Homo sapiens: one gene and its partner. The protein of the gene in region 1 purifies or fractionates together with the protein of each later gene. This does not show direct contact. Each region holds a gene or a part of one and is shown in the gene's direction. Other genes may lie near its edges.

What was found.
Region 2: the proteins of PLA2G15 (region 1) and RP2 fractionate together in Homo sapiens (co-fractionation; one large-scale study listed by BioGRID). This does not show direct contact.

The regions. Positions count from the first base shown.
Region 1 is NC_000016.10:68,244,222-68,248,473, forward strand, and holds the start of PLA2G15 (lysosomal phospholipase A and acyltransferase isoform 1 precursor), read left to right. Parts: upstream 1-1,151; 5' UTR 1,152-1,205; coding exon 1,206-1,332; intron 1,333-4,252. UniProt on the Homo sapiens protein: Has dual calcium-independent phospholipase and O-acyltransferase activities with a potential role in glycerophospholipid homeostasis and remodeling of acyl groups of lipophilic alcohols present in acidic cellular compartments.
Region 2 is NC_000023.11:46,857,348-46,861,162, forward strand, and holds part of RP2 (protein XRP2), read left to right. Parts: intron 1-2,640; coding exon 2,641-2,755; intron 2,756-3,815. UniProt on the Homo sapiens protein: Acts as a GTPase-activating protein (GAP) involved in trafficking between the Golgi and the ciliary membrane.

The DNA.
Region 1 (4,252 bases):
AGAAAGAGGGAGGGTGGTGGTAGCCCAGTCACCAACATGTTTCACTATAAGAACTCGAGAAGGGCAGGGCAAGATAGTGGCTTCATAGCCAGGTCAGCTGCTTACCAAGAAGAAGGAAGGAAGGGGCAGGACAAATTTCTTGGGACCAGGTGGGATGACCAGGGTGCAGCTGCCCCTTCGAAGGGGTGGGTGTGTGGAGGATCAAGACCTCTATTTCCCAAATACTCTCGTCCCTCTATCCCACAGTGACCTATGGTGCTGGCATATAACCAGCTGTCAGGTCTTTGCCCACTCTGTTCGCCCCTGCTTCCTGGCGCAGGGAGTCCATGTCCTCTCTGGTTCCCCAGGTTTGCGAGAGTGGAGGGGGACCACGAGCTCCCGATGCCTCTCCTGCTCTGCAGGGGAACTTGCAGATGGCCCATGGCGCAGGGTCGAGACTCAAGCCCACTCCCAACCCCGCGCCCGAACTGCCCGGACTGGCGGGGTGACGCTGCACTCTGCGCCCCTAAAACGAACAGATTAACCCCTCTCTTGGGAACTGAACATGCTGACCTGGCCTCTCCCGGTTCCCCCCGCATCTGTAACCCCGGGGCAGAGTTACAGGGGCTGACTGGCCGCACCCAGGTGCCCTCGGGGCAGGGTGTGCTAAGAATTGGTGTGGGGGCTGCACAAAGGTCCTGGTCAGCTCCTGGTCACCTGAGGCCCAAGAACTGTCCGGGACTCACTTCCTCTCTTCTTGCTTTAACCGGGGTCGCTCAGCAGCGGCCAGCGCTGCACCCCTTATCCTCTCCCGGTCTTGTCCGTTCCAGATCCTCCAGGTCAGGGGGTCGCCAAGTGAGAGCTGCGCAGCGTGGATTTCGGGTACCCAGGGCTGGGCGGGGTACAGCAGCGGCGAGCTGGGTTCCCGGGTGGGCGACTGACAGCCCGGAGCCAGGCGATACCTCGATCCATCGATGCGCTCGGCGCTCAGCGTGGTCCAGGAAGCAGGGGGTTGGGCAAGGGCGGGGCGGCGACCTCCGACTGGGAGGGGCGTATATGGCGGCGAGTCCCTATTGGCCAGCCATTTGCGGGAGGCGGGCCCTGATTGGCCGGGGGGATGCGGGGGATGCGGGCGGCGGGGTTAAGCGCGTCGCCACCGCCCCCGCCTAGGCGAGAGCCCAGAGAGCTGAACCTGCATCCCGGACCTGCGGCGACCGTCGTACACCATGGGCCTCCACCTCCGCCCCTACCGTGTGGGGCTGCTCCCGGATGGCCTCCTGTTCCTCTTGCTGCTGCTAATGCTGCTCGCGGACCCAGCGCTCCCGGCCGGACGTCACCCCCCAGTGGTGCTGGGTGAGGCACGGGTCTCGTGGTGGATCTGTCGGTCGGGCGGGACGGGCCGCGGGCGGGGCTGCCTTCCCGGTCTGCTTCTGTTCCAGTCACGAAATGGGGGAGCGTATTGGTATCTGTCTTGTCACTTAGGTGATCTAGATCTGCCGGCTCACCTCCCGCCATGCTGGGCGCGGGTGTGGTCAGCTCCCCACCTCCTGTCCTGGTAGAAAATGGGGGTGAGTGGGAGAGTTACCATCTGGTTATTCATAGTTCCACCTGTCCGCATCATTCCCAAGCCTTGCCTCCCCTTATCCCATTTTTAAGCTGGAAAGACAGGTGCTTCAGCCCCACTCCTGAGGGATGGTGGGGGTGTGTAGAGTGGCTCCTGAGTTGACTTCTGCATCGACCTGGGCCTGGTTAGGAGGCTGTCACCCTCGACCCCTCCAATGCCACATATGCCAGAAGGCATTGCTGAAAGGAACCTCCTTAGGGAAAGGATTGCTGTCCTAGCTGGCCACCAACTCCCACAACTTATCAGATGTGTGGCATTGCCTGAGGGAAAAGGCCTAAGGGAAACTGAAGACAACTGAAGTCAGGGGAAAGGGTTGGGACAATGGCCATGAACCTGTGTCAGGCAACATGCTTGTACTCTTACCCTGCCACACATGCTTGGACTAGACTATGTGGAGGCTCGGTGACCTCCCCTGCTCACCCCGCTCCTTGATCACAACCCTGGCAACTCTACAACGGCCACTGTATTTCCTTGCAGGGATGGGCAGGGATGAGACCTCTGTCTGGGGGGCCTTGGGTGCCTCATTGAGGCCGTCACTCCCATCCAGAGCTGGTGTGTCCGTGGCCAGCCAGGATTCCTGAAAGCAGAGGCATCTGAGGCATGAATTACACGTGGAGTCTAGTGCAGCATGATCTCCATGCTCTTTCTGCTGAGAGTACTTTAAATGGGGACGATGCAAATCACAGAAGGGTAGAGTTGGCAGGTAGGGTGGTGCCAGGCAGGCCCCACCAGGAGTTCCCAGCCAGGAAAAGCTCCAGGGGGATACTAGGCCCAGGTTCACCATGGGATTTGGGCAGACTTGGCCCTGCCTCCCCAAAGCTTGCAGGATAGGAATAACAGTGATCCCCAGAGAGGAAGTCTGTGTGGGGCAAGCACAGAGAATCCACCAACCCAGCCTGGATGGGTGGGTGTCAAGTAAGGCTTCCTGGAGTATATAGCTGGAGCTAAGGCCAGGAGAGAGTAATGGGTCGGGGAGAGACGTGAGCATCTCAGGCTGCCTGGGATCGAGTCACAGGAGGAGTGGACTGCACAGGACTTGTGACTGGTTGGGTCATCTGAACTTTATCTTGAGGGCCTCAGGGAGTCCTGGGTTGGCCTGCAGAGTTCTAAGTCTGAGGGGCGTGGCATTAGGAAGCATGTGGTCTGTGGCACACAAAATGGCACATAGCCATTTTGCCTGGATTGATGCTAACCGCACTCATCAATTCAGTCAGTCTGTTTATCCTTGGTCACAGCAGAAGAGCCTCAGACCCCACCCAGAATCACAGAGCAGCAGGAGTCCTAACATGCCCAGCTTCTCAGGGAGTGAGGCTGCTGGCCTTAGCCCTGGGAGACCTCACGGTGGGCAGTTGGATAAGCAGCTCCTGGGCACAGAGCAGGGATCTGACCTTGACTGTCAGAAGATCAGAATCCTCTAGGGGTGGATCCTGAAATGGTGGTGGAGGAAAGAGAGACCAGCGATGTGATACAGAAGACCCTGGGCAAGGGGAAGGGACCATAGGCAAGGCCATTTCCACCTCTTGCAGCCTCAGTCTCCCCATCTGTTAAGTGGAAATAGTAAGGCTGTCCCCTCCCAGTGTTACTTGAGGTGAAAGGCATGTGGATGGCTCTTTTCCTAGTTCCAGGCGCAGATGGGCTCAGGAAGTGGCCACTGCTATTTTTAGGGGCCACACAGCCTGACCAGGGTAAGGAGCATCTGAGCAAAGCAGATCTGGTGACTTCCTCTTTTACCATTTCCCCTTTGGTAGAGACAGTGACCAGGGTCTCTGCCCTGCCCTGCCCAGTCCACAGGCATGTCATCCAGAGGCTGTCATGACAGGGACTCCCTCCCTCTGCACCCATACCATGAAGGGAGGTGAAGGCATGTGCCGCCCCTGCCTCTCATGGCACCCTGAAGACACTGGGATGGTGCCCAGGGAGGGCACGCCCTGTTCAGGGTGGATTTACGGTCAGTTCCCAGTGAATGTCCAGGAGAGCCAAGTGCTGGTTTTTCACTCAATGATCATGGACCCTAAACGGGGATGTGTTTGGGAAGTGGCGAGAGCATGGCATGTGGGGGCAGGTGAGGCCCGAAAGGTCAATGGGAGTAACGAGACTGTGAAGGGCTTTGACGCAGTGGGGAGGGATTTGGGTGTCACCAGGGCCCCAGAGTTCTGAGTACACTGAATAGGATGGCTGGGATGGAGAGAAGTCACCCTAGGGCCTGGACTGTGGTGATAATGGTGCTGGTTCAGGGTGGCTGTTTCCAATACGGGCTCCCAGCCATGCTAGGGCCCTCCAGATGATCTGCTCTCTGGCACCTTACTGGACTCTGGCCTTTAGTAAGGCCTGGGCCCTTGGTAGGCTGGCGGGTGCCAATGTAAGCTTCTCTCAGCTGTGTTTCTGTTCATTTCCCTCCCACCAGCCTGTCCTGCATACTTTGTCTGGTTGAATTTTAGCTGAGTGGCCCAGGGCTCTGTTCTGTTTCCTTCTTCCTCTCTCAGGGCGAACAGGACCCTGTCTTCTATGTAGCCTGGGATAGCTATGGGTGGAAGACTTTTGGGTTCAAGCCTCCAGGGTATATATCTTTTTTTTTTTTTGAGACCGGGTCTTGCTCTGTCACCCAGGCTGGAGGGCAATGGCACGATTTTGGCTCACTGCAACCTCTGC
Region 2 (3,815 bases), on another chromosome or scaffold:
TCAGGAGTTCAAGACCAGCCTGGCCAAGATGGTGAAACCCCGTCTGTACTAAAAATACAAAAATTAGCCAGGCGTGGTGGTGGGTGCTTGTAATCCCAGCTACTCGGGAGGCTGTGGCAGGGAATTGCCTGAACCCACGAGGCGGAGGTTGCAGTGAGCTGAGATCCCACCACTGCACTCCAGCCTGGGCGAGAGGGCAAGACTCCGTCTCAAAAACAAACAAACAATAAAAATTGTTTTTCTTTCCTCGACTTCTCTTACCTACATCACAGATATGTACAGGATAAAATAGAGTAAAATAGTTTGAGAGTACTTCATCATCTGAAATTGAAGTTGGGTAGTTACCACTATTTTCAAGTCTTTAAAAGTAGAATTTTCATGAAAAGGAGTCTCTTCAAATATCTGCAGTGAAATATTAAAATATAGTTTATTATTTAGGTAACATTATTTTGAAGTAATCATCATAATCTCATCAGTTTGTGTTTATAAAATCAGAGATGATAAGCACTCTAGAAAATAAGAGAGGTAGAATTGTTTCTGATATTTTTATTTTACAGTCATCTGGCAGTGATGTCCATGTAATTCTCTACAATTTTTAAATGTATGTTTCTTTTTTTGGAGGCAGCATTGAATGAGGGTTCTGAAATAGGATTTGAGTTTAATAAAATTCGATGGAATGGTATGGAATAATGTAGCCATAGGATGAAATACTATCAGCCATTAAAACTGACTTTATGTAGAAAATGTCACAATTAAGTAAGTGAAAATTTGTAGAATATTAGGTAAGTAACTGATTTTTTTAAGTAGGTAAGTCTGGAAAGTTATAGATACTTAAATGTTAACAGGCATGCTTATTCTTAGGCAGTTGATTAACAGCAGGGTTTTCTTTTTTTGTAGTTCTATGGATTTAACAGTGAGCATATATTATTTCTGTAATGGGAGAAAAAGAAAACTGGGAGGGTATACCTGTATGGCAGTAGCATCTTTTAGTTGCAGCACCCTGGTTGATATTTCTTCATTTCTATTTTTTATTTTTCAAATGTTCTGTGTTGAGAATATATGTTACTTTTAATTATTAAAAACCTAACAAGCTTTGCTAAAAATTAAGTGGTTGGAATATGACTACATTTTTTTTTTTTTAAAGACAAGGTTTTGCTCTATTGTCCAGGCTGGAGTGCAGTGGTGAGATCATAGCTCAGTGTAGCCTCTAACTCCTGGGCTTAAGGGATCCTCCCACCTCAGCCTCCTGAGTAGCTAGGACTACAGGCACACACCACCACACCTGGCTAATTTTAAATTTTTTTTTATAAAGATGGGGTCTTGCTGTGTTGCCCAGGCTGGTCTCAAACTCCTGGTCTCAAGCAGTCCTCCCACCTTGGCCTCTCAGAGTGCTTGGGATGCATGTGTGAGCCATGATGCTGGGCTGACTGCATTTTTAAAAACTACTTTCATAATTACTTTAAAAATTAATATGCCCTCATTGTGGAGAATTATAGAAATAAGAAAGAGTAAAATAAGTTTAAAATCAATACATAATTGTACCATACCTTGAATAATCTTTTTAGGAATCATTTTTAAATTTATTTAGTCTGTAATTAGATTAACTAGGTTTGAATCACAGCTCTGTCACTTAATTGTTGAATGTCCTTGGGCAAGTTCCTTAATCACTGTGCGCCTTAGTTTTCATATCTGTACAATGAGGGTAATGATACCTACTTCGTGAGAGGGTTAAATATATATATGTAAAGTACATAAAACTGCCTGCCACATGGTAAGTGCTCCATAAGTGTGATCTACCATTATTGTGCTATACTATATAAATTTGTATCATGCCTTTTAAAATTAACATTATTGGCCAGGTACAGTGGCTCATGCTTATAATTCCAGCATCTTGGGTGGCTGAGGCAGGAGGATGGCTTGAGCCCAGGAGTTCAAGATCAGCCTGGCAACATGGCAAGAACCTGTTTCTACAAAAAAAATTTTAAAAATTAGCCAGGCATGGTGGCACGAGCTTGTAGTCCCAGCTAGCTGCCTGGGAGGCTGAGGTGGGAGAATCGTTTGAACCCAGGCGTTTGAGGCTGCAGTGAGCTATGATTGCACCACTACATTCCAGCCAGGGCAACAGAGTGACACCCTATCTCAAAAAAAAAAAAAAAGAAAGAAAAATAAACAAATAAAAGTAAAATTAACATTATTACATAAGCTTTTCCTCATTTTATTATAACATCTTTGTTGTATTTAATGAACTGTGATAAATGTAATGAACTGTGGCATTTCATCATGTGACTGTACCATAATTTACTTAACCATTCTCTTCTTATTGGACATTTGCAGTATCACCAAACTAAAACTTCCATCTGGTTGTAGAAAAATTTTAATCATGTTTTAAACTTGAGAGATAATTCACATTTATTTGACCCTTAACCTTAACTGCAGTACTAAACCAGAACCACCCATCTGTAAGAAAGAATCTCATATAGTGAGAACTTATTATAGCAAACACCCTGAATTAGACTTATAATTAAAACAAAAATCAGTGTGCTGTTGTTGCATTTTATACAGAGAAATACTAGAATAGGAAATCATTGTTTTAGTCTCAGAAGTTCATTTTAAAATCTCAATGAAATTTTATTTTCACAGATGGTTGGTAAAGGCTTTTTCCTAGTTCAGACAAAGGAAGTGTCCATGAAAGCTGAGGATGCTCAAAGGGTTTTTCGGGAAAAAGCACCTGACTTCCTTCCTCTTCTGAACAAAGGTACCTTCTGGATGATTGGTATACTTTTGTGGATATTTTCTTTACATGCTGATTTGATTTACTTTTGCCTTTAACATTTGTTTTACATTGCCTTCTCTTTCTCATTTGTTCTTTGTTTTTTTTCTATTATTGTTCTGAAATGTCAAAATTTCACATCACTCAAGGAGCCCTAGACAACTAACTAGAAATTAGGCATTCTTTTTTTTTCCCTATCCTCTGTTCTTAGTACTGAAAGTCACATTTTATTATGTATCTTATTATCATTTTAATTGTTGTATTATTGTTGTACCTTTATAGTGTAGTGATAAATATTTCATGCTCCCTGCTCAGAGTTGCAAAGCACTTGATGAAGATTCTTTCTACCTTCAGTGTGCTTTAATCATACTGGAAAAGAAATAAGAAATATAAAGTGGTATACTATTTTATGTATTTAATATGATTGATTAACTTCCATGTATAATTAGAATTGTTTTCCCTAGTGGGTAAATGCCACCAATAAATTTCAGATACTGGATATAGGTCTTCAAAGAGAGGAACTTGAGTATGTGTGCCCACTTGAAGGGTTACTGTCTGCCTACCTGTATTTGAAGGTGTATTGATTCTAGAGGACAGAGTACTCTTTATCTGTTCAGAGTGGGGCCATTGTTTGCTCAAGGCTCATCAGGCTTTCCTTGACTGGCCTGAGCAAATATGTATAGTAATACGCAGTGTTGATTGGGTATTCCCTAGAGAGAGGGCACATCTGCATTTTATGTGCTCTTTATGTATAAAAATATTATAATAAACTGCAAAAATCTGTATGCAAATGTTAGAGGAATGTTAGGATAATAAGTAATGCTGGGTGTAACTCAGCTGGTAAGTATTAATGCAGTATTTGATAATACTTCTGTGGTTACTGTAGTGGTAGCAAGGACTTGCTGTGACCCACTGCATGAATCTACCCCAGAATATATGTAGGAAATTCTGACCTGGCCCCTTTGATGCAACCATTTTGACATGGGAACATTTGGAAGCTTGAAAATGAATGTTTAACTTCTTAGCAGCTTTTGGAAATTGAATC